Regions from separate parts of the Homo sapiens genome. Here region 1 is linked to region 2. Evidence: fine-mapped QTL for protein levels in blood plasma. A gene starts in region 2. The other region holds a variant in brackets. All regions are shown on one strand. Distances are between the middles of the regions.

Region 1 (16,612 bases), 20 kb before region 2:
ATTAGGAACCCTGACCCAGAGGGCATGAAGCATTAGGAGAGCTTATCCCGGCAGGCCAAGAACTGCAAAAAGCTTTTAGGGTGGAGGGTAGGTCATGTGATAGAATTAAAAAGAGTCAAAGAGACCCAAGTTTATATTCCAGCTCCACTTTTTATTAGCTGGGTGCCTTGGAAACTTAGTTAAGCATTCTAAACTTCTGTTTGCTCACCTGTGAAATGGAGATTTTTAAAGGAGTAAATGCATAGTGTCTGACACTAAGTAAATATACCATAAATATTATAGATTTTTAGTGGGCTGAATAATATTCTGAGAGTGTTACGTATGTAGAAAGTCTGTTTTCTGCTTTCTCTTTATCTCATGAAAGGAAAAGCCTGCTCTGCCTTTCTTTGCCTCACAAAAGGTGTGTGCAGAGCAGAAACAGAAGTCACCTGCAGTGTTTTCAGGGCACTGTTGCCTGAAACCTAAGCCCATATGAGAACCCAAGGCTCCCTGGAGGATGCAGAAGGAAGAAGCAAGAGAGACAGGCAGGCCTCAAGTGGCAGGGCCTTGAGCCCTGCTCCCTGGTGGTAGCCCCGGGAAGTGGCAAGCCCAGAGAAGGGTGGCTGTGTGGCCTGTCTGGGGGAATATGACTAAGGCAGCTTCCAGAAGATTAGGTTGGCCCAGACAGGGCATGGAAGCAACGGGGGCTGGGGCAGGGACAAGAAAGACCTGGCATGCTGGAGAGTCACCTGGATCAAAGCACAACAATGGGGCATTGACAAAAATGACCAAGATTAATTTTCCTCTCAACCTTAGGGAGGAAGGCAGGGATAGGCAGGAGGGCCAGTGGGGGAGGAAGGGAGGGATGCACCACCAGCCTGACTCAGCAGCGAACTCTCCTGGACAATGGCCCTGGATGCCAGACTCAGCCACCTCTTTCTGTGCTCTTGAAAGATGGGGGCACACTGCAGAAATTCAACTGATTTACAGAAAACGAAAAGACCTGCTGCTCTGTGCACACCTGAGATTTGGACTAGCACCATGAGCTTGTAAATCTCACATTTTACAGATAAGGAAATAGAACCAGGGATTGAACTGAGTCATTCAGAGTCACACAACTGTAGTCATCTGTGAGTCACATTTGTAGAAAGCCAAACACATGCCAGCACTTGATACTCTTATCTTTGATCCTTACATGACCCTCTCAGTATCTCTGCCTCAAGCCTTTGGAAGAGGAAAATGAGACATGGAGAAGTAACTTGCTCAAGGTCACACCGCTTTGCAGTCAACCCAGGACTTGAGCCCAGGATGGTCACACATGCACTCCCAGGGGCTATACTCCCCTGCCACCTGGCCCCCTCCAGCATGCGGCATCATCCCTTTGGACTTCCTCCTGAAGTACTTTTCACAGTGGGGTCACACATTAGATCCTTCCATCTCCCATCCGATGGTGGGCTCCCTAGTCTCTGTGTCCATAGCAAATGCATAGAAGATGCTCAATAAATTGACTTGAATTATCTTTATTGATGCTCATATCTGAGTGGAGATCAGACGCTTATGTCAAGGTGTTACAGTAGGTAGCTAGCCATGTATGAGTACAGCAGAAGACTCTCCACACACACGTCAGGAGTGTTTGGTGACCATCAGGTGATGGTCAGGCGGTTGTTAACTGTCTCTCTAAAGTAATAATTGGTCACAGCCAGCACCAGCAAAAGGCAGTCTCCTAGTAGATAGAAAACACCTGGAACTGGTGATCAGCAGCTTCCCAATAAGATCTCAGGAGTCGGGAGAAATAATGCAAGATCCCAGAAGTATGCCAATGTATAAAACCCCGAGTCACGAGGTCAAGCCACGCACTTGGTCTCAAGTCGCCTGTTTGGCCCTCTTCCAAGAGTACTTTCCTTCCTTTCCTTACGGCACTAAAGCTTTTTAATAAACTTTCACTCCTACTCTAAAACTGCCTTGGTCTCTCCTTCTGCTCTTTTGCCCCTCACTTGAATTCTTTTTTCTGGGTAGACAAGAATTGAGGTTGCTGCAGACCTGTACAGATAACTACCACTGCTAACAAAACAGGGTGTCCCTGGGCACTGATTTGTTATAGCCACTTTGTGGGTCAGTCCCCAGGCTCAAGGAATCTAGACCAAGGGGAGTCATCCCCCTCCAGCACCAGGTAACCAGTGATGAAATCTTATCGTGGCTTTTCTAAACACTTTTTAGAATTTTTAGAATTCTGCAATTCAGCAAAAGATGACTGAATCATGTCCACACTTGAAAAGCCCCAGAGCCTGAAGAAGACTAAGGGGCCCTGGGGCATTTGCTGTAGGACAAATAGAGAGCAATTGCTCAAGTGGAAGAGACCCCAGGAGGTGGAGACCTAACAAACGTCGCCCCGCACATTTGTAGAAATCCCCACCCTTCTTCTTCCTCCCCACAAAATGGCCACTGTGCGTGGTGTAATGGCCCGTCCACGTGCTGAGGTCAGCAGAACATTTAGGTGAGAATAACTCCCAGCCTCCATACCTGCACAGTTATTTGTTCTGCATTAAGTGGCCTGAGTCCTGGAAACCTCTGCCCAATGCATGATGGAATTGCCAGGTCCTCTTGGGAGAAAGAATGGGGCGTGGGCCCCACCCTGCTCATGGAAGAGCATATTATTAGTTCTGAGAAACAGCAATAGTGAAACCTATTCCTGGTTCCTGAATGGGAAGGGAGAGGGGGATAGAAGGAAGGAGAAGAGGCAATTACCACAACTACCATGCAGGCCTCTGGGCAGGGAGGGCGGCACCCAGCAGACAGAAGCCCATAGGCTGGTCAACCAGGACCTCATCAGGCCACTCCCAGTTCAGGAGCCTTTACCAGCAGAGACCTGCAGACCAAGCTCCTGACCACCAGGAGTCTGGCCCCATCCACTTTCCCAGCCTCATCTCTGCAGCTTCCCAAACAGGAACCAGGCACAAACACTCACCATGCCTCAATCATGACATGCATGATCCTGTCTCCACACTCTGCTCAGTGCTTCATTGAGATTGGAACACCCTCCCCACCTCTCTCCATCTTGGAGAAACTTACCTAATACTTTTTGATGTGTTTCAACGTGACATGCAACTTCTCCCCTCACTGTGCTTTTACCTATGCTATACCTCTGCCCAAATGCCCTTCTCTCTATTTTCTGCCTACCCATCTTCTTCAAGATTCTGCTCAAAAGATATGTCCTATGGGCTGGGCATGGGCTCAGTGGCTCACATCTGTAATCCCAACAATTTGAGAGACTGAGGCAGGAGGATCACTTGAGCCCAGGAGTTCAAGACCAGCCTGAGAAATATAATGAGACCCCATCTCTGTTGTAAATAAATAAAGAAATAATTTTAGAAAATGATATGTCCTGTGTGAAGCCTTTTCTTATATCTCCTATGAGATCAATTAGGAATGGGTTTGGCTGCAAGTAATTGAAAATCTGACTACAGTGGTTTAAATAGCAGTTTATTTTTCTCACAAAACAAGAAGTCCAGAAAAATACAGAATTGGTTCAATGGACACCACTGCAATTCATTTGGCCTTTTCCTTATGGCTGCAAATGGCTGTTACAGCAGCAAACATCGCATCCCATCCCAAAGCAAGAAGAAGGGGAAGCGGGAAGAAGCAGTACCAGCAGACCGCTCATGCCTGATGAACTTCATTTTATAGCTCCCAGCTACAAGGTAGGCCGGAAAATTGAGGATTGCACTTTTTTGTCTGTATAGTGGAAGCAGACAATCAGGTTCTGTTGAGCCCACCCACATTGTCTGCAGTAACCACCCACTCCACCACCAGCGCAGTTTGCTCCTCGGTCTGGGATGTTCTCAGAGTGCTTATCTCACTGCTCAGTGATGGCTTACACATCAGCCTCCCTCTGGACTAAGAACTCTAGGGCAGGAATTTTGTCTGAATTTTCTCTGTAACTCTAAACACCTAGAACAATGCCTGACCTAAAATAAGCACTCAGTAAATGTTAAATTCATCCTCCCATTCACTCAACAGCTATATACAGAAGTAAGCAAATGAGGCCATGGGACTTCCTTCCCAAAAGAGGTCTCCAGTGGCTGAAATCAGGGAGTAAGTGCCCACGTGACCCACATATGGACAGTCAGTGGCCTGTGGCCCACCACAGCAACACCTCCTCCTCTGCCAATGAGGTCACCTGGCCCTTGTGCCAAGCACTGAGCATGTAGAGGTGAGTAAGCTCCTCTCCCTGCCCTCAGGGAGCTTGTAGTCCAGTGGAACACACAGACGTGTAGGCAACTAAGTATAATTCAATGCATGAGTCCTTTCCTTGGCTTACGGACCAGTGCTACTGGGGAAGGGAGAGTAGAGCACTCGCCTGTATGAGGAAAGGCAGGGAGCTTCATCCAGGGATGAGCTGGTATATTGATCATGTTCTCTGATTTTCCATATTCTTGATGCTCTGGCATCTGGGGCCTTGATCCTTGAGAGACTGCCCTCACAGGACTAGCTAATTCCTAGGCATGGCGAAAGACTCCCCTGTGAGCCTGTCTTTGATATACGAACCAACCCACCCACAGCCCACACCCCCAACCCTCTCCTTTATCAAACTCTCAAAAAGCAAGCCAATTTTCTCCCTGCCCTAAACCACCCCAGGGTCAAATACCACTCCTCCAGCCCAGAGTCCGCTGAAATTACTCAAACTATACAATTCTAAGCTTACTCAGAATACCTACCCTGTGTCACCCATTCCTTCATGTAATAATGCAATAAAGGCTCTATGTCACAATTTCCTTTCCCTTGACCACCCCAGACAACTCCCCCCCAACCTCCACCTCCTGACTGACCCCAGTGCTTCCCAATGTGGCCCTACATGCCTCCTATGTCTAGGGGTCTGTAAGTATAAACTTCTTCCTTCATGACAATCATGTCCATGTCTGCATGTCCTACCATACCTAATTAAAACAAACCCCAGGTATAAATTTCAGAACAGCTGGCTAGAAGGGATATAATGGGGCTAGTCCTGGGGAGCATCTAGCACATCCCTAGGCAGATCTAGCCGGGAAACTCAGCTGACAGGTGCTGCACTGATCAAGGTAACACTGAGATGCTGACTTAGATACAGAGTGAGAGATGAGATGACCCCTGGGAGATCCTCCTCCCCCTAGTCTGGACCCTCTTTGATGCTCCCAACTAGAGGACTAGACATCAGTTTCATGATGCTCCTGCCACTAACATTTCAAGCTAATTTGGGAAGTGGTGAGGAGAGATCCAGCTGCCCCCTCAGCAAAGCATCAAGCTTGATCACATAACAATGAATGTTGGCAAGCATGGCCACTGACCAGGCAGCATCCTAAGCCCTTTACATGTATAAAATCACTTCTTCCCAGCCACACACCACCACAATCCTGTAAATGAGGTACTATCTGTCTCATTTTAAGGGAACCGAAGCACAGATCAGTTCAATAACCTGCCCAAGATCACACAGTCAGTAAGGGGCAGGCCCAGGATTCAGACTCAGGTAGCATGACTCTAGAATGAGGGCCCTGGATGGTGACAACACAAAGCCGGAGCTGACACTTGCATTTTTGTTGCTACAGTGCCCAGCAGGCACCGTGGAGATGGGGGCAGATGTCTGGAAGCAGAGAAGGTGCCGAGTGGAAAGCAGGGGATGAAGGCTACTTTCCTCCTGGGCAGCCGCCGGCGGGACCAGGCAGGCTTTTCTCTCTCGCCCAGGGTGCGGTGTAGAGCCTCCACTGGACTCCACCACGGGGAGGAAGACCGAGGCTACCCAGCCTCCTGGCTGCTGGCCATGGCTCTAGCCCACCCTTGCCTGTGTGTCAAGAGAGAATCCAAAACAATGTTCCTTTTGCTGTAAAGGGCATGATTAGGACAATTGGCAAAATAGTCTACATCAGATGATAGTATTGTTCTGATATTAATTTCCTGACTTCGATATTTGTACCAATTTTCATGTTAATATTTACAAGAAAATGTCCTTGATTTGGGGGGAATACTGAAGTAAAGAGTATTATGTCAGGCCGGGCACAGTGGCTCACGCCTGTAATCCCAGCACTTTAGGAGGCTGAGGCAGGTGGATCACTTGAGGTCAGGAGTTCAAGGCCAGCCTGGCCAACATGGTGAAACCCGGTCTCTACTAAAAATACAAAATTAGCCAGGCGTGGTGGTGGGTGCCTGTAATCCCAGCTACTTGGAAGGCTGAGGCAGGAGAATTGATTGAACCCAGGAGGTGGAGGTTGCAGTGAGCCGAGATCGCGCCATTGCACTCCAGCCTGGACAACAAGAGCAAAACTTCGTCTCAAAAAAAAAAAGAGTATTATGTCTGCAACTTGCTTCCTAAAAGATCCAGGGGAAGAAAAACATACATATATGTTCTATATAATTTATATAGCTATGTGTTTTCTTTATACTTATGTATTAAATATCAATAATTATATATTTTATATATATTTAAGTTTTATTTTTATACATAAAATATATAAATATATTACATATTATATAATATAATATATATTTTAATACCTAGAGAGAGTGAGAGAGAGAAAAGCAGAGGGGAAGGGGAGAGGGAGGAATAGCGGACAGAAAAATAATGCAAATGTGGTGAGGTGTCAACATTTCTGATATTTGGGTTAAGGTATGTAAGAACTCTTTCTGCAAGTTTGAAATTATGTCTAAATAAAAAGATTTTAAAGATTGAGATAATCCAAAGGCCTCTCCAAAACCATATTTATAAATTTGACACATGCCACCCCGCATGTCCAGAGGAAGAAGGTGGAAACTAGACAGGGAGAGAGCCGGTTACTCACAGCCTAGGGCCCTGCCCCGGGAAACAGGCAAATGGATCCAAATTCACTGGGGGCTGCAGGGAAGTGGGGTTAGCAGACAGGTCCTAAATCCCATTTCAGAGTATTTTTCAGGTAGGGAGGTAAAAAGAAGAGGAAAGCAGAGTGGGAGAGAGGAGGATGGGGTGAGAAGTTTCTCTGGTAGGAAACAGGTCCCTTCCAGCTCTGTCCCCACCACCACACAATACCTAGGCACCAAGACTGGACAGGGCAGTCCTAAAATGGGATGACGAAGATGGACATACAGAACACGAGCCCTCTGCAGGACAATGAGGCATTAGCACCAGGTCACACATCTTGAGATCGTGATTGATTTGCTTTGTAAATACAGTTTGTGCTGGGCACTGTGGCTCATACCTGTAATCCTACCACTTCCAGAGGCAGAGGCAGGTGGATCACTTGAGCCCAGGAGTTCAAGACCAGCCTGGGCAACATGGTGAGACCCTGTCTCCAGAAAAAAATACAAAAATTAGCCAGGGGTGGTGGTGCATGCCTGTAATCCCAGCTACTCAGGAGGCTGAGGCTGAGGGAGGATTGCTTGAGCCAGGGAAGTAGAGGCTGCAGTGAGCCAAGATAGCACCACTGCGCTCCAGCCTGGGCAACAGAGCAAGACCCTGTCTCGAAAGAAAGAAAGAAAGTTGTAAGGAATCGCTTAGTAGTTGGGAAGGAAAACTGGTTCAAAATTTAATGTTTAAGATCTTCATAATATTAGATTTGGTGAGGTCTCCTTGATATGACACCAAAAGCACAAGAAACAAAGGGAAAAATAGATAAATGGGACTACATCAAAACTTAAAACCTTTGTGCATGAAATGACACACATCAACGAAGTGAAAAGGCAACCCATGGAATGGGGGAAAATGTTTGCAAATCATATATCTGATAGGGGCTAATATCCAGAATATGTAAAGAACTTCTACAAAAAACAAATAACTTGATTTATTCTTTTTCCCTTTTTTTTTTTTTTTTTTTGAGACAGAGTCTTGCTCTATCGCCCAGGCTGGAGTGCAATGACGTGATCTCAACTCACTGCAACCTCCACCTCCCAGGTTCAAGTGATTCTCCTGCCTCAGCTTCCCGAGTAGCTGGGATTACAGGCACCCGCCACCACACTCGGCTCATTTTTGTATTTTTAGTAGACGGGGTTTCACCATCTTGGCCAGGCTGGTCTTGAACTCATGACCTCATGATCCACCCACCTCGGCCTCCCAAAGTGCTGGGATTACAGGCATGAGCCACCACGCCCAGCCATAACTTGATTTTTAAATGGGCCAATGACTTGAATAGAAGTGATTTCTTCAAAGAAGAGATACAAATGGCCAAGAAACGTATTAAAATATGCTCAACATCACTAATTATTAGGGAAATACAAATCAAGACTACAATGAGATATCACATCACACACATTAGGATGGCTGCTATCAAAAGAAGGGAATAGGGGAAGAAGGAAGGGAAGGGAGGAGGGAAGGAAGGAAAAGGAGGGAGGGAAGGAAGAAGGGAAGGAAGGAAGGGAGAGAAAACGAGTGTTAGCAAATACTTAGAGAAGCTGGAAACCTTGTATATTGCTGGTATGCATGTGAAATCGTGCAGCCACTATGGAAAACAGTATGGCAATTCCTCAAAAAATTAAAAGTAGAACACTGTATGATTCAATAATTCCACTTGTGGGATTCTTCAGTTCACTCAGATGAATTGAAAGCTGGGTTCCAAAAAGATATTTGTATACCCATGTTTGTAGCAGCATTATGCACAATAGCCAAAAGGTAGGATCAAGTGTCCATCCACAGAGGAATGGATAAACAAAATGTGGCATATGTGTGTATGTCTGTGTGTGTGTGTGTGTGTGTGTGTGTATATATATATATGAATATTATTCAGTCTTAAAAAGAAAGGACATTCTAACACGTGCTACAAAATTGATGAATCTTGAAGATGCTATGTTAAGTGAGATAAGCCAGTCACAAAAAGACAAATACTGTATGATTCCGCTTATGTGAAGCACACAGAGGAGTCAAATTCAGAGACAGAAAGTAGAATGGTGGTTTCCAGGAGCTGGGACCAGGGAGAGAATGGGGATTTATTGTTTAATGGGTACAGAGTTTCAGTTTGGGAAGATGAAAAATTTCTGGAAATGGATGGTGGTGATGTTTGCCCAAGAACATGAATTTACTCAATGCTGCTGAACCATACCCTTAAAAATGATTAAAATGGTAACTTCTATGTCACATATACAACACAGTAAAAAAATAGGTTTACTTGTAAATAAAAATCAGTATACTCTTATGAACCAAATATCATAAACTATAATCTAATGAATGGAATATGCACCTTTTGAAAACTCAGAATATAAAGAGGGACACCTTCAGGTTTTATGTTCTGTCTTTGAACATCTGCAAAACTCACTCCTCCCTGGCCTGGTCACTGTGAAAAGTAGAGGGACAGGGTCTCAATCATGGGGTTTTCAGGAGTAGAGGCGACCTTGGCAATGTCTCTTACACAGCCCTGGGTCCCTGAGTGCCCACTGTGTGCTCAGCGCCCCTGCTCTGCCCTTGTGACAGTCATCCCTCCCAGCCTCGGCGTCCTCATCTGGAAACATCTTCTACCTTGTAGGTTTTTTGTGATGATCAGTGAGGCCATGCAAGGTGCCTGGCAACAGCAGGCACTCGATGAATGCAAGCTCTTATTATTCTCCTCTCATCTAGTCATCACCAAGAGCATGCAGGGTGGTTGCTATTATCTATATTTTACAAATGAGAAAAATGAAGCTTAAAGAACTTAAGTCGTTACTCAGCTCCAAGATGAGAAGACAGTGTTGCCAGGATTTCAATCCAGGACCAGTTCAACTCCAGAATCCATGATCTTTCTACCCCAGCCTCTCAGGCCTCATTTAACAGATAAGAAACATGAGGCTCAGTGACATTGGCAAGGGTGAAAGCCCAGATGACCACAGGGGCCAGGCAGGTAATGGAGAAGAATATGTTAGCTGATGTAAAAAAAAAAAAAAAATCGCCTACCAGAGATTCTACCAAATTATATCTATTTTTACTAAACTAAGGAGTAGGCATGTAACATTTTATGGGCCTACAAAATACTAGAGATTGTGCTTCAAATTCTAAATTTAAAAATAAATGTTGAAAAATAATTTTAGGAGAAACCAGATCAAAAAAGAAAAAAATGCAATTAATTTAATTATCTTCCAAATTGCTTCATTTCAGATGTCTCACTATGTTGCCCAGGCTGGTCTCGAACTCCTGGCCTCAAGCAATCCTCCCACCTCAGCCTCCCAAAGTTCTGGGATAACAAGCATGAGCCACCAGGCCCAGTGTCCTTCCAATTTTTTTTTTTTTTTTTTTTTTGAGACAGAGTCTCACTCTGTCACCAGGCTGGAGTGCAGCGGCGCAATCTCGGCTCACTGCAACCTCGGCCTGCCAGGTTCAAGCGATTCTCCTGCCTCAGCCTCCTGAGTAGCTGGGATTACGGCGCACACCATCAGGCCTGGCTAATTTTTGTATTTTTAATAGAGACGGGGTTTCACCATGTTGGCCAGGATGGTCTCGATCTCCTGACCTCGTGATCCGCCTGCCTCGGCCTCCCAAACTGCTGGGATTGCAGGTGCGAGCCAACGCACCTGGCCCCAATTTATTTTTTAAGCATAATGCAGGCCAACACCTGCAGACCAAATTGTCTGCAGGTCAGATGCTAACCCCAGCCACCAGATGGCCACCCTGAGGAAGGTATAGTGGAGGCCAAGATCAATGGCGGGTTCAGGAACATTTGAAAAGAAAGATAATATCACAAGTTAGTGCCACTGTGGGAACCCACACTAGGGATGCCAGGATTTGCCATTTTCCAAGAGATACAGGAAATGTGGATGTGGGGAGAAATATACCAGCTTTGAAATAAGAGCAACCATTTGTTTTTGCACTGTGCAGACAAAATAGCAGAGGTCTATAGGGCAAGCCTCTCCTCCCACCCAGTGACAGTCTACAGGATGAGCCACTTCACATATTGGCAAAGCCCAGACTAAAGAAAAATCTCCAGACTCCCAGGCCGTGATGGAACCAACCAGTGTCTTCTCCAGCCTGGACCAGTCCAGAATGGGAGCAGGAGGTCCCGAGGGGAAAGGATGGAAGGGGGAAGGAGACTGGCGGATGCCCAACCCCGACAGTCCCAGCTGAAGGAGACAGGTGTACAGACACTGGGGCATCAAACTCTGACTCTGACTTCAGGGTTCAATTATTTTCTTCTGTCAGATTTTTGCCCAAAGCTATACCCAAAGATTTTCAGTAATCCCACGTCAGTGGAAGGACTGCACAACATCTAGCCACATTAATTAAAGAGGATTTTTTTCCTCTGAGACGAACGTGTGTTAAAAATATCAAATATTAATCACTGGCAACATTAATTTATAATAACGCTTGTCTCCCTCTCAGCTTCTAAGTTGACATCTGGCATGACTGCTTTGAAACTAACACCCGCTCCATTGCAGGAATTATAAATAGCCTGAGTTAAAATCTTCACCTTGAACTGAACAGACTGACTCCACGGGGTGGTTTACGAATGAAGAGGGCTGCAGCATGCAGTAAAATCCGGGGTGGGTCTACTTGGGGTAACAGTCAAAGAATTTTTTTAAGGCAGCAATCCTGAAGCAGGGAAGGGTCAGGGAGAGGGGTATGAGCACAGAGGGCCCTGCCCTGCTTCCTCCTCATGGGGCAGGGTGCCCAGGTGCAGGGCTGCAGGAGGCCAGCCTCACTCCCACTTGGCCCATTTCATGAGCCATCAGCGGAGGGGGTGGGCACAGGCTGTTCTATTCCACCCTGATTAAGTGCACAATCCAGTTTCTATACTTGAGTTTTGAGGATTGGTTGGTGCAGACACTGTCTTTTATTGAAGAGAGGGCAGAGCCCACTTTATATAAAGAGAAGAAAAAATTCATCTATCAGCCTACAAAGCACGTTCACTCCATAAGCCTATCTAGTAGTGATATTCACAGTTACTGTGGCTCCTCTCTGTGCCAGCCTGGGGCTTGCTCCTCGTATTTAGTCCTCACAACAACATCACAAGATAAGCTCTAATGGGAACCTATTTTACCAATGAGGAAATTGAGTTAGAGGAGCAAATTCCCCCAGGTCCTGTAGCTAGGCAGTTGGCGGGTGGAGCAGGATTCAAACCAAGAAGAGTGAGTGAATGGGGCCTTTTTGCTTCACTCCTTTCCAACATTTCTCAAGCTGCTAAAACTCTAGCTTGCCAGACTTCCTCTCCAGAAATCCAGATCCAGTGGCTCTGGGATGCGGCACAGGACCCTGGGTACTTCACAAGCACCCCAGGTGAGTTTAACCCTAGGGGAGTTTGGGGGAGCACTGCCGAGGGTGCCCTCGTGACAGCCTGTGGGCAGCCAGGGGTTACTGTTCCTGTTTACCAGACGTGGAAACAGACCCTGACTCCTCAGGGTGCTGAGATGAGACTTTTGGTCCCAGGACCGCCAAGAGGACCTCTGACCACCAGCCTGAAGGTCAGAGAGAGGACAGAGCAGGAAGACAGGGCGCCTTGTAGAGTGGGAAATAGTGGGGACAGAGTCTGAGAAATAGGGTGGGAGACGTTGGGGGCAGTATATGGTCCCACTTCTGATTGCATCCAGCTCCTCAAGGGCTCAGGGGAC[C/T]TCTGGGGCAACCCAGAAAAGCCCCTTGTGGCCTACATGCTTTGCAGTTAGGCCACCTCCAGGGGACACTGGGGCCCCAACTTGTCCAACTAAGACTGCAACAGGGAGATAAGGCAAGAACCCTCTCTCTCATCTTTCCCTGGCTGGGGCCAAATTCCCGTGGGTGCTTAGCTCCCCTGAGACCCCTCACAGGCTCTTTCCTCTGACCCTACCTCCCTGGGCCTGCACCAGAGCCTCTTCTCAGGCCCCTTCTTGAAGGCTAATGAGACCAGGCATGGCCAGCCTGACACTGCAGGCTCTCAAATGTCTCATTGTCCTCCCCTCACGCTGACAGTAAGCTGCAGGCTGCCTCTGCCCATGGGGCTACTGCTACTAAGATACCACCCCCAGCAGCTCCTGCAGTGGGGCAGCTCCCAGGAGAGGGTCCTGGGCCCCGCCTTCTGTTGCCCTGACTCTCTGACACCCCCTGGAGACCCTGAGCATTGCATCTGGCAGCCCAGGTCCTTGTCTCATCCCTTCCCAGCTGAGCCCCAGATGGGTCCAGGGAGTGTGTATGTAGAACACATGTTGCCTCCTGGTCTGGGCCTCAGAGCAGCCAGCTCAGCCTCCTCACCTGCAAGGCTTTCCAGAGTCCAGGTGGGGGCCCAGCTGTTTGCCTTAAAGTGCACGGAAATGACTGCCTTTCAAGGGACCTCCTCTCTCTCCTGCGCAACTGCTCCTCTCTGTATTCTTTTTCCCCCTTTGCACTTTGATGACTCAGGTTTTCACAGGCACAATAGTTCCCCCTTTGAAACCTAATTCTGGATGGGCACAGACCCAGGTGCGCACACACACCCTTCTTCCTCCCTCTCCCGGGCTTGCTAGTCCTTGCTTTAGCATGAAGACTACCCTCTATCTTAGCTGGAACTTCTCCTAATGGAAACTAGCCTCTCTGCCACTTGGAAAGAAAAGTAGAATTTTCATTATTTGTTTAACTGATTTCCTTCAAAGGTTGGGGTGATGGGTTAGGGTAGTGTTTCTCTGGGAGTGGGAGGTACAAGGAGCACCTGCATCAGAGTCCAAGCTGTAGAGGGGCTTGTTGAAGGCCCCACAGAAGCAGAGTCTTCCTTTGGTGCTTGGCAGTAACGTCTTCCTTTGGTGCTTGGGAACTGGTGGTCTAGGGGGTGAGCAACATTCCCTAGCACTGCCTCCTTCTAGAAGGGAGTCGCAGCAACAGTGAGGCCTGTCTCAGGGAACACACATGGTTTGGGAGGTTTGATTTGGACACAATCTGAGAGGAGCCAGGACAGACTTCAAAGCCCACTCTCCTTATGCTTTTTCTACCAAAAAAAAAAAAAGAATAGCACAGTATTAAGATCATAGCCCATATTGAGCAAACATTCCATTTTACTGTGAAACAGTGACTCATATGTTTAAGCAAGGTATTAAGAAGTACTTAGATAAGATTTGTGTATCTGTGTTCCCAAATGGAGCTGTTATTGAGCTCTGCCTACATAAACCTGTGCTTCTAAACTTCAAGATAATAACAGAACATGATCTGAACAAACTGATTTCTTCCTACCATGTTCAGCTTCTGGGGAATTGAAGCACATCCGAGAAAAGATTGTTCGTTCCTTCCTGGACATCTTATTGGTTTACCTCACTGAAGAGATCCCTCCAGGTAATGCTAGTGTGGTGTGCTGGTTACAACACGTAGGTGCTATTTTTATTATTGCCATTGTACAGATGGGGAAACTGAGGTACTGAGAGGTTTAGTAACTTTGGGTCCAAAGTCTCTAGTAAGCATCCAAACTAGGGTTCGAACTCAGGCAGTCTGTGCAGTGAACCACTGTGCTAACCCCCCGTCAGGAAACATAAGGGAGCTTTGCCGCTAATTTGATGAGAAATGCCAATCGAGCAAAATGTAAAATAACAAGAACATGTCAAGCTGCCATTTGACATATTTGTTTACTTAATCTTTGGGGTTTAGCTTTGAGACAGAATTTCACAGGCTCCTCCATGACTCGTCTCCGTCAGAAATGTGCCCACGTCTTCTTACTCACACCAGTGTTTCTCTCTGTTTAGATCCAGTTAATCCTCCTCATTAATCTTCAGCTCCCAAATAAAGGCCCCTCTGTCCTCACTAGACCCAGAATATTTTCCTGCCCTGTACCAGGCCAGCCCCCGCAGGAGCTCCGAATCCTTTTGAGAACCACACTCGTGTTTTTCTCCCAAGGTACACAGAAACAAATATGTCTGTGACTGACGCGCAGCAGAGTCTATCGAGTAGGCAGGGGGCTGAGACAGGAAAGGATCTTTTGGACAAAAGGACCATAAATCATATCCTTCCTGTGACCTGGACCAAGTGGTCTTCCCAAGACCCAAGCACTGCCCCTCAGGTGAGCAGAGAACTGGGACAGGACACAGCAGAGTGGCAGGGACCTAGGGTGTGGCTGCAGACCATGGCTGTGTGCAGGCCCCAGCAGAGCCCTTTGTCATAAATATGGGATGGAAAACCTCAGCAGGGAAGCTGACTCTTTCGTTCACCTAAAGTTGTTCACCTCAGTGATTCTGTGGCTTTGGGCTTCTGAGTCTAGCCATGGCCCCAACCAGGGTTGGAGCAAGAGGTGGCAACCCATCTTTCAACCTTATTCCTTGTCAGGGTCAGCTGTCCAGGGTGTAGTTCTAAAGGGGGCACAAAACATCCCTGCAGTCAATAGAAGACTCAGAGCCAGTTAAGGCCTGTGCCAGATAACTCAGCCACTACATAGGGATCTCTCTGTTCCCACCAGGGTGGGCAGTGCCCTCCAGTGGAAAACAAAAATTCCTTGCACTCATCTTAAGATGCAGTCCCAGGAAACTGAAACCCCAGACTGCAGAGTGCACAGTATAGTGCTTTTGTTCTGCTCATAGGCAGTTTCTTTAATCATCTAAATTGAAAACAGTTTAGTATGCCATTGGTGTAAAAGATGTTTGGGGTAGAAAACCACATATAACAAATGCCTTATTTGGTACATTAGCAAAGAAATACACAGTTTGGGTTAATGTCAAATCGTTCTCTTCAGCCTACAAAACAAATATTAAATGAACATTTTTTAAAATATCCATTTGAAGGAATATCAAGTCACAGTCCAGCCCAGAACACCCACCCTCCTCACTCCTGATGTGCCCCAGGGCTTGAGGATCTCCTGGGTCCCTGGAAGCACCAAAACTCAGAAACTGTGAGCCCCGGCCCCTTCCTGACCTCATCTTTTCGATTCTACAAACCGAAGTTGTAGAGCTATTTTTTTTTCTTTTTTACTTTTTGGATTTTAGTATTTTTAAAACAGCTTTATGGTGATATAATTTACATACCAGACCATTCACCCATTTAAAATATACATTTCAAATAATTTTTAGGATACTCACAGAGTTGTGCCACCATGCCTACTAACTAATTTTGAACATTCTTATGGCTCCAAAAAGAACATTAACAGTCACCGCCTATTTTCCTACCTGCAGCCCACCCCAGCCCTGGGCAACAGCTAATCTACTTTCTGTCTCTACAGAGTTACCTATTCAGGACATTTCCCATAAATAGAATTATACAAGATGTGGCCTTCTGTGACTGGCTCTTTCACCCAGCATGATGTTTTCAAGGTTCCTCCATGTTATGGTGTATATCAATACTTCATTCTTTTTCATGGCTGCATAATACTCCATTGTGTGGATATAGTGTGTTTTATTCATTCACTTGTCATTCGATGGAGAAAACCTGTTTGTTTAACAATGGCTCTTATTGTTTTCCTTTCCAGCTCCCAATCAGAACAGGTGTCCCCAAAGATACCCAGACAGAGAATGTGCCCCCAGGCCACCTTGTGCTTCCTTCCCCCACTGGTAGAATCTGATTTTTTGACAACCCAGGCGAATCCTCAAGGTTGACTCTTGGGCTAGACTCACAGGTCAAGGCCGACTACTGGGCCAGGCGCAGTGGCTCACACCTGTAATCCCAGTGCTTTGGGAGGCCAAGGCAGGAGGAATGCTTGAGACCTGGAGTTTGAGACCAGCCTGGGCAGTATATGGGTCACATTTTCAAGTAGCAATTTCTGGAACTCAGTGATTGTCACTGTCAAGGGTATGAAGAAGTAGGAATGCTGCTGTGGTCTGAATGTCC
Region 2 (9,012 bases):
AGCAAATTAGGGGCTGGGAATGCCCAGCTTGTTTAACAGCCTATAAGATCAGTGGCACCCCTCCACCTGAGGCTGCCCCCCAAAAACAAGGAGGCAGTGCCCAACATCAGTGAGGTATGACTAGAGGTGGCATCGGAAAACTGCAGTTCCAGTCCCAGCTCTGTCTCATTGGTTGTGTGCCTTGAGCAAGTCACATGACTTTGCTGTATGTCAGTTTCCTCAGCATTGCCCAGGGTTGCAGTGAGGATCAAATAAAGATCAGTGGTTCTCCAACCTGTGCTAGAAGTTTGTAGATGAATTATGTCAGGCCCTGTACAAATAAATGTACAAATGTGTCATCTGCAGGGCACTAAGTAAGGTGGATGCCTGTTGATGGCAGGGGCACAGCAACCCCATAGCCTTCTGCTTCCCCTTGGACATTCAGGGGCTGGATCAGGGCTGGATCAGCTATCAGAGGAGGGTGAAGTCCTCTGGAGCCACAGCCTCCCTAGACTGCCTCTCTGGAGCCAGCCTCTCTAGCCTTCCTAGCTAGAGCAAGGCCCCAGGACATCACCCTCTGCTCCCCGCATGGCCCACCCACATATGTGCACCTATGCAGTGTCTGCAGAGTACCTTGTGGCTGCCGGGGTGGCACTCCTCGCCTTCCCGCCCCAGCGGGGTGCACATCCGCAGCCCTCGAAGCCACAGGCTGATGGCACAGCAGGTGCCTGCCCCACACTGGACATCCCGCTCACAGGCCTGTAGGAGGGAGAGAGAAGGGAACAGTTCATTAGTGCACCCAAGAGAAAGCAGAAGGGAAGGGTAGATCCAAAAAGCCCTTATCAGGATGGAGCAAGAAGAGGCTGAGAGTATCACCCCCGGCCTTAGCCTAACAGAACACCCTGGGCCACACTTTATTGCCTTGCTCCCCTCGTGGGGAGGCTCAGGGCTCAGGGGGGCATTGGATCTGGATCTGAGGAAACTTCCAAGCTCCTGGAGGCCACTCAGAAGGAAGACAGTCCTCCTTTTCTGACAAGGCTGGAGGTTAGAAGGCATAGCTTTTCTAGGGCTAAGTAGATGCTCAGTGGATGCTGGTGGAATTGAATTAATTAGAATTCTCAGAGGTGGGAGGGACCCTGATGGCCCAAATTCCTTGGTGGTCAGTACTGAGCTGCCTTGGACCAGGAGTCTCCAGCCCTGACTCTGCACTGTGGTCAGTCCCTCCCCTCTGCATGGAGGCACCCCCATCCTGGCCCTCAAGTGGCCCAGCCTCAGCAGAGGGGCCAGCACCCCAGTGAACAGGTGCCTCTCCCAGGGTTTCTCTACTGACTTCCATGATTCCCAGAGAGGATCGCAGAACAGGAGCTGAGCGGCCCTGCCTGGTTTGGGGAAGGTACCATTTGTAAAGAAGGCCACATTAAATAAGCTCACATTTAACATGAGCCCACGTTAAATAAAAGCCAGAGCCGGGGAAGACAGAACTCTTAACTGCTCCAGACTCAGGTGGGGACCTGCTGAAGAAGCATCCACACTTGCCATTCTCAGAGATGCTATGTGGCTTTTCTGAGCTGAAATGCAAAGCTGGGTTTTGGATCACTCTTCTCCAATAAAAGCCTATGGGCACCTTCAGGCTGCTGTGTGGGACGTGGCAGGACCTGGAAGCCTCCTACTTGCTCAGACCCAAGAGGGAAAGAGTGGATGTCAGCTCCACAGATCATGCAGAGGAGTTACGGGTGGTGGGCACCCAGCTGTGCCTGTCTCCAGCCCAGCAAGGGCACGTCTCACACCCAGCCAGGCCACAAAAGCTTGGGGTTGGGGTAAAGGAAACCCCAGTCGACTCTTCTTCTCCCATAGAGGTGGGGCATCACTGTCCCACTCTTGGAAGAAGGATCATAAAGCCTTGGATGTGGGGACAGTTACAGTCCAGGGAGCAGGGGAGTGTAGAGGTGGTGGAGCCTGGGCTCCTGCTGAAAATCAGAAGTGGGACACCAGCAGGACATGGAGGATGTGGGGAGCCTGGGGGTTCCTGACTTCCCCTTACTGCCCTGTTCTCACCACTCACCTGTCTTTCCTGGGTTTCCCTCACCTAGGGAAAAGTGCTCTCTATTGTGCTTTTCACCGTGAAAATGTTTGCCTGCCGCTCTCAGATCTGCCTGCCCTGCTGTCACTCTGGGCCAGTGCTGGAGCTGGCACGGGTGGTGAGGCAAGCCTGGCATCCAGGCCAACCACGCTGCTCCTGCCCTCACCGCGCAGCAGCCGGGGCTTCTCTCCATTGTTCTTGCCCTCCCAGATTTTCAAGCTACCCCATAGAAGGGCAGCCTACAGTGTAAACACTTCATTAGGTATAATTCTGCCTTCACAATTATTTTTATTTTTGCTTTGGATCTCAAAAGCATTTGACTCGCCTTTAATATTTGTTCTTTTGAACTCAGTGTTTTTCCTTTAAAAGAGAAAAGAAAGAATTTGTCCTTTCTGTGAATGGTAAAATTAACCCAATTCCAGGAATTGTTTGGCATTTCTCTACATTTCCACTATCCATGTAAAAAGCTGGTGGAGGCTGAACTAAAAGTTAGTTTCCCTGCTTCCCCGACCTTTTTCTTCCAGTGGATTTTATATGGAAAGCTCTCAGGTACAGCATTGCTTTCTGCTTCAGTAAGAATGGTCCTGCTACCATAACACATCATGTGCCCCTATTTGAAGGTGGTTTGAGGTAAAAGCAAACTTCCGAGAGAAAACCATGATCTGAATATTTTGAACCAATTGTACAGTGCCCATATGCTGAACCTTTGCTTCTCTGCTTCGAGACTGGATATCTACTTGTTATCTGGATGCTTGCTTTGGGGTACACTCAGCTGAATGTTAGTGGCACCCATATTCCTCTCAGAACTAACTAGGCAGGCACAGAGTGAAAGAGTTTCAAAGATATCCTTTCTAAGCGGAGGTTAAGTTTATACAATAGAAGTTTATAAGCTTACCACCTTTAATTAAGCTTACTGCCTTTAATTAAGTCAACATGCTATGTAAATTAATATTAATATTAATATGTGAATCAGACCATAAATAAAAATTAAAATTCACACAAAAGATAAGTTAAGGTTTGCCAATCCACTTTATAAAGGAATTCCTTATTACTTAATAGGAATCTTCACTTTACCAAAGGACTGAACTTCAAAATGTTCAATGCTCTGCTAACACATTGAAAACAGGATTTGATTCATACACAGCTTCTCAAAAGCAGATCCCATTTAGTAGAGTGAGGTCTAACTAGTCTGAAAATCGCATGCAATCCCTTTAATGCATAATTCCCCATTCCCTTTGGTTCACACTGTGTTGAGCCAACAGAGCCTCCTGCATGGTTCCTGGGCTCACAACCCGTGCAGACCCTGACATCTTCCCAAAACCCAAGGCACAGAGAATGTTAGGCGACTTACCCCTGTGATCACAGCACAGTCAGACACAGTTACTAGGAGGAGCATGATTGAGACTCGCGTGGCACCTCTCATGGTCACTTGGGGTGAAGGCAAAACACTGCCTGCTTAGATGCCTCTCGCTTCCTCCCGCTCAGCCTTGTGCCTGGCAAGCTGGGGAGGCCAGGCTCTCCTGCATCCCCCGCCTCCTCCCAGATGTTTACACTCAGGATCCAGGGCTGCCTGTGGATGCCTCATCTCTGCTCTTCCCTTCTCCAACACCGATGTTACTCAGATGATCTCAGAAGCGAAGATGAGACCTGAATCTCTAACAACATCAAATCAACATCAAAACCAATAAAAATGGATACTTGGGGGGCTTTGACGGTTGCTCTAACTCTCCCAAGAACGCAGTGATTCAGACAGTTATGTATATTTCACTCAATGTTCTTTTCTGCCTCTGGGTATCCTTCTATCCTACTTGGGGCAGAGGAAAGCCTCTGGTAATGAATTAAGGGATTTGCAACATCACCATTTATGCTTCCCTGCACCAAACTATGCAACATACAAGATTATTGGTTCCCTCTCACTCACACCAAGACTTATCTAGGCATTTACCATGGGCTCAACACAGAGGTAGCTGAGAAGACAGAAGAGGGTGAGGTGGTATCCTTATTTCTCTAAAAGGTTAAAATTATAGTGAGGAGCCATAAGACAGTGAGGAAAAAAAGACCAGACTTGTGGGGCTGATGTTCCTAAGTGACACACACATAAGGATTTGCTCTCTCATGGGCTCAGGATGAACACCAGCAAGTGTCCCTTGGTACAATGACCCAAGGGCAGAAAGCCAGCAAACATACAGGGCACACACTCTCTCAGTACCCTGCAGAGCCGAGCTGGTATGGGCTGTGGCTGAAAGGTACCAGAGCCACACCACTGGCCTTCCAGTTTTAGGGGTGAGCATGAGAGTGGCCTTATCCGTGAGTGTATAAACACGGTGGTCTCAGATGCCAGTCTGGTGGGAAGTTGACTTTCGGGATGGCCCCTCCGCCTGTGAGGGAAGCCCCTGACCCCAGCCCTCTCTGTGTCATACGACCCAGAGAGAGCTCCCAGTGCTTTGTCAGATGATCTGCCTTCTCTCCACAGTAATAAAAGCCAACATTTCCCAAGGTATGTGTTGCAATATGTTAATACACAAATAAACAAATAAAAGACTTCTACAGTCAAAAATTTGGGAAACACAAACCGGCTTGTTTTTTGCAGAACTTTTCAGGGCCTTTCATATGCTAATAAGTGTTTGAAACACCAAGTGGGAAATGCAGTTTGTAGTATTTCACAAGCAGATTCATCCACAAAACCTTTCTTATCAAATGTCACAGGGGTCTAGGGTTTCCACATTGAAACGCTGATAGGCATTTATGAGTGCAGAGAGGAAGGTTAACTAGCACGGGAGCTGGGAGCTAAGCCCCCAGAGGCAGATGCTTTGATTCAGATCGATGGCTTCATGACCTTGAAAATATTGCTAATCTCTCCAAGCCTCAGTTTTCCTATCTATAACATGGGATAAGAATAGCATTTACATCATACGATTTTGCGAGTATTCATCTATTTATTTATTCATTGACTATATTTATTGAGAGCCTACTGTATAGAAGACACTGTTCTTGGCACTGGGAATATAGCAGTGAACAAAACAAAACCCTGTCCTCATGTAATTTTGACTATAGTCAAGGAGACGGGTAATAGACAAATAAACAGATTTGTAATAAAATGGCCAGTTGTGTTGAGCACTGTTAAAAAGGAAGGCCAGGCGCAGTGGCTCATGCTTGTAATCCCAGCACTTAGAAGGTAGAGGCAGGCGGATCACTTGAGGTCAGGAGTTCGAGACCAGCCTGGTCAACATGGTGAAACCCCATCTCTAGTAAAAATATAAAAATTAGCCAGCTGTGGTGGCTCACGCCTGTAATCCCAGCTACTCGGGAGGCTGAGGCAAGAGAATCACTTGAACCTGGGAGGCAGAGGTTGCAGTGAGCCGAGATCGCGCCACTGCACTCCAGCCTGGGCAACAAAACGAGACTCCATCTCAAAAAATAAAAAAAAGGTGGTGGGGAGAAAGGCAGGGAAAGCAACAGACCTTGACAAGTGGTGATATTTTAGATGTGGTAAGGGTCTGTCTGAGAAGGCACTTGTGCAGATGACTGATAAAGTGAAGGAGTGAGCTGGACAGAGCCTGGATGAAAAGTCAGTGCAACAACCCTGTGGCAGGGCTTTTTGGCCAGTTCCAGGAGAAGCAAAGAGTGAGGTGAGCCAGGGGACGGGATGGGAGGGGATGCAGTTGGAGCAGGAGCCAAAGACCAAATCCAGCCTGCCTTGTGGGACATGGCAGGAACCTGACTCCAAGTGTGATGGGAACCCTTGGAGAGTTTGGAGCAGGGGAGAGGCAGGATCTGGTATACACTTGGATTTTTTTTAGAGACAAGGTCTTGCTCTGTTAGCCAGGTTGAAGTGTGATTATAGCTCACTGCAGCCTGGAACTCCTGGGCTCAAGCGATGCTCCTGCCTCAGCCTCCAGAGTAGCTAGGACTGTAGACACACACCACCGCACCTGGCCTGATTCACACCTTGAAAGGATCCCTCTGACTGCAGATGGAGAGTTAAGTGAGGTGATGCATATGAAGTGCTTACCACAATGCCTGGCACACAGCAGCATTTGCTACCAATGGCCAGTTTTTTCTATAAACATATGAACTTGTATGCCTTAATATAAAATTCTCCTGGGAGGTGAGAATCAAAATAATGAGTCTGTAAGGCCCACCTGTACACTGTGACACTGGGCCGGGCTGGTGACAGAAGAATCAAGAGACCATCCGAGCCTTGGAGGACCTTCTGCTCTGGGAGAAAAGCTACCTAGGGAGGAGGCAGCACTTTGCTGGGGGCTTGGAACACCTTACAGAAGTGGTCCTGTGGGCTCTGCTTGCCCTGCACACACTACCCCACCTCACAAGTTTGCCTTCCAAGAGACAATGTCAGATCAGGTGATTCTCAGGCTAACACCCGTCCCATTCGCTCCCCTATTCTCACTCCCTCCCTCCCCACTGCCACAAACACACAAAACTAATCATCTCACAATTGCAGTGAAGAATGGTAGCAAGAAATGCTGTTGCAAAACAAAACCAATAGCATTGATTAAAAGCATTTTATTTCTCTTGAATGCTAGTGCTTGAGGAAAAGCCATTTTAATTAGAGGAGGACAAGGGACAGAGGGCAACTTGGTGGAAATCCCAGAAGAGACTCTGAGGAGCTCCGGGGATAAGCAGTACTGATTCTTTATTCAATAACTCAATTACACATTCATTCAGTTCCTTCCATGTGTCAGGACCAGGAACTCGCACTTCTAGGGTCTAATTTCCCTCTAGACCTTAGAGCTCTCCTGTTCCCTTGTCTAGGTGGATTTCAACAGTACTTGATTCTTTTTTGCCATGGTTAGGGTTACTTTTTGGCTGCCAGGTGCAGTGTGGAAAAGGACAGTGGAAAGGAGAGGAAAACCCTGAACTAAGCAAGCATGAACTGGAGGAGACAAAGGAGGGAAGCCGGAGGGGAGGTGAGACAAGAAGCAAGTGGTAAAAAATGGAGGGGAAACGGTGAAAGTGCTAAAAGTGGACTTGGTTCCGCTGAGGGAGGAGAGAGCTAGTGGAGAAGATGTGCCGGGCAAGCCTTTCCCAGAATCCTACACACCTGCGGAGAGAATGAGGGCAGGTGGGCAGCATGCCATTGAGTGTCTGTGTAGAAGGGCTACGTGCAGTTCACATCTCATAACGTCAGCCTGGCCCTTATTTCTCTGCTTTAGCTGATGTCAGTGTCACCATGGACCATTTATACAGATGTGTGTGTGTGCGCGTGTAGCAACAGCCAATCTCAAGGCCTACCTTGAGGGGCCCCTCAAGATGTAGGGCGACCTTCTCATGGAGTGAGACTATGGAGTGGAATATTCCCTGACCTGGCATAGTCCTCTGAGACTGTTTACCTTCAGGCATGGAGTAAGTCTCACCTAAGCATGGGGGAGAGGTTGAGAAGCCCCTTTCCACTCTACCTTAAGATCATGGTTATTGTTCTGCAAGCTAGAAAGGGAGCCCATGTCCAGGGGTCTCCTTGCTCCTGCCTGAGTGGGCGGATCTTGTGTTAATGTTTGAGCACATGTGTTCAAATATGCTCCCTTTGGCTGGGTGCAGTGGCTCACGCCTGTAATCTCAGCACTTTGGGAGGCAGAGGCAAGTGGATCACCTGAGGTCAGGAGTTCGAGACCAGCCTGGCCAACATGGTGAAACCCTATCTGTACTAAGAATACAAAAATTAGCCAGGCCTGATAGCATGTGCCTGTAATCCCAGCTACTCGGGAGGCTGAGGCAGGAGAATCACTTGAACCTGGAAGGCGGAGGTTGCAGTGAGCCCAGATCACATCTCTACCTGGGTGACAGAGTGAGACTCTGTCTCAAAGAAAAAAAAAATGCTCCCTTTATTACTGGTTTGTTGCTAATGATTAAACAAGAATTAACTCTGATCCGTTTCAAAAAGAGATGAAGAAAGGAATAATAGAATAAAGGAAACCCAAGCATCCAGGCTGGGGGTTGTTAACTTGGAGTCACAGCCCTGAGGAGCTCATGAGCAGAATTCAGAGAATCCATAAACTTGGTAGAGAGAAAAATTGCATCTTAATGTTCACTAACTTCTAACTGAATTTTTAACATTTTCTTTGAACCATAGGCCACAAACTACAAAAGTTTTAACAGTACCGTGATTTTGTTGCCAGGAGAAATTACAGATGTTTTTATGTCATATTACTATTGCTTCAAATAGCTCCAAATATCATTCCTGCTCATCACTACCTTGAAATCACTGTAGTTACTAGGCTCCTTGCTAGATTGTTACTTGATCCATTAATAAAGAAGTGCATGTATTACCATGTCACAAATTTGTTTTTAATAAATATCTTGATAACTTTATTTTAATAAACTTGATATTTTTTATAATCTTACATATTGTATTTTATACATTTGAAGTCATTATTCTGAGCCATAGGCTTCAAAGGGGCCTACAGCACAATAGCCAAGAACTCCGGGGGTAAACTCTGGAGACTCGGAGCAAAGGAAAGATGCAGCTTAGTACAGTGCAGGGTCATAAATTCAGGCCAGCTGAAAGCCTGAATTTAAACTGGACAAATCTAAGAAGAATTGGAAGAGGAGGAGGAAGAGAAGAACAAGGAGAAAAAAGAAGAAGAAAACAAAATAGAAAGAGAAGAGTACCATCCTGGCTAACATGGTGAAACCCCGTCTCTACTAAAAATACAAAAAAATTAGCCGGGCGTGGTGGCGGGCACCTGTAGTTCCAGCTACTCGGGAGGCTGAGGCAGGAGAATGGTGTGAATCCGGGAGGTGGAGCTTGCGGTGAGCTGAGATCGTGCCACTGCACTCCAGCCTGGGCGACAGAGTGAGACTCCGTCTCAAACAAAAAAAAAAAGAAAGAAAGAGAAGAGTACAGTGTCGGGGTCCAGAGAATAACAGGGACCTGGGGAGTGTCTTAGGCTGCTTGTGCTGTCATAATAAAATACTTCAGACTGGGTAATTTATAA

Direction of the effects. Positions count from the first base shown, and alleles are read on the strand shown. Strength reflects both the effect of a copy and how common the allele is.
For the plasma level of the protein whose gene starts at base 3,550 in region 2, T is the high allele of the variant in region 1 and C is the other (weak association).

The links. PIP is the chance, under the fine-mapping model, that this variant and not a neighbour inherited with it causes the effect. Protein levels are from antibody-based Olink assays in UK Biobank. Linkage for the fine-mapping came from a reference panel and not from the study's own genotypes, which makes the PIPs less certain.
Region 1: its variant is fine-mapped to the plasma level of the PROK1 protein (UK Biobank, PIP above 0.99).

What each region holds. Positions count from the first base shown.
Region 1 is chr1:110,461,807-110,478,418 of GRCh38, reverse strand. LOC105378899 (a long non-coding RNA gene) reads left to right here and starts at 4,773. Exons shown (of 2, transcript XR_947699.2): 1 at 4,773-4,854; 2 at 5,559-5,877. It overlaps LOC105378898 (a long non-coding RNA gene), which reads right to left and starts at 4,662. Exons shown (of 2, transcript XR_001738181.1): 1 at 4,625-4,662; 2 at 4,337-4,475. RefSeq lists enhancers at 130-630, 631-1,131 and a silencer at 378-672. The variant C/T (reference allele first, on the strand shown) is at 12,481.
Region 2 is chr1:110,445,687-110,454,698 of GRCh38, reverse strand. It overlaps PROK1 (prokineticin 1), which reads right to left and starts at 3,550. Exons shown (of 3, transcript NM_032414.3): 1 at 3,411-3,550; 2 at 613-738. The coding sequence starts at 3,482.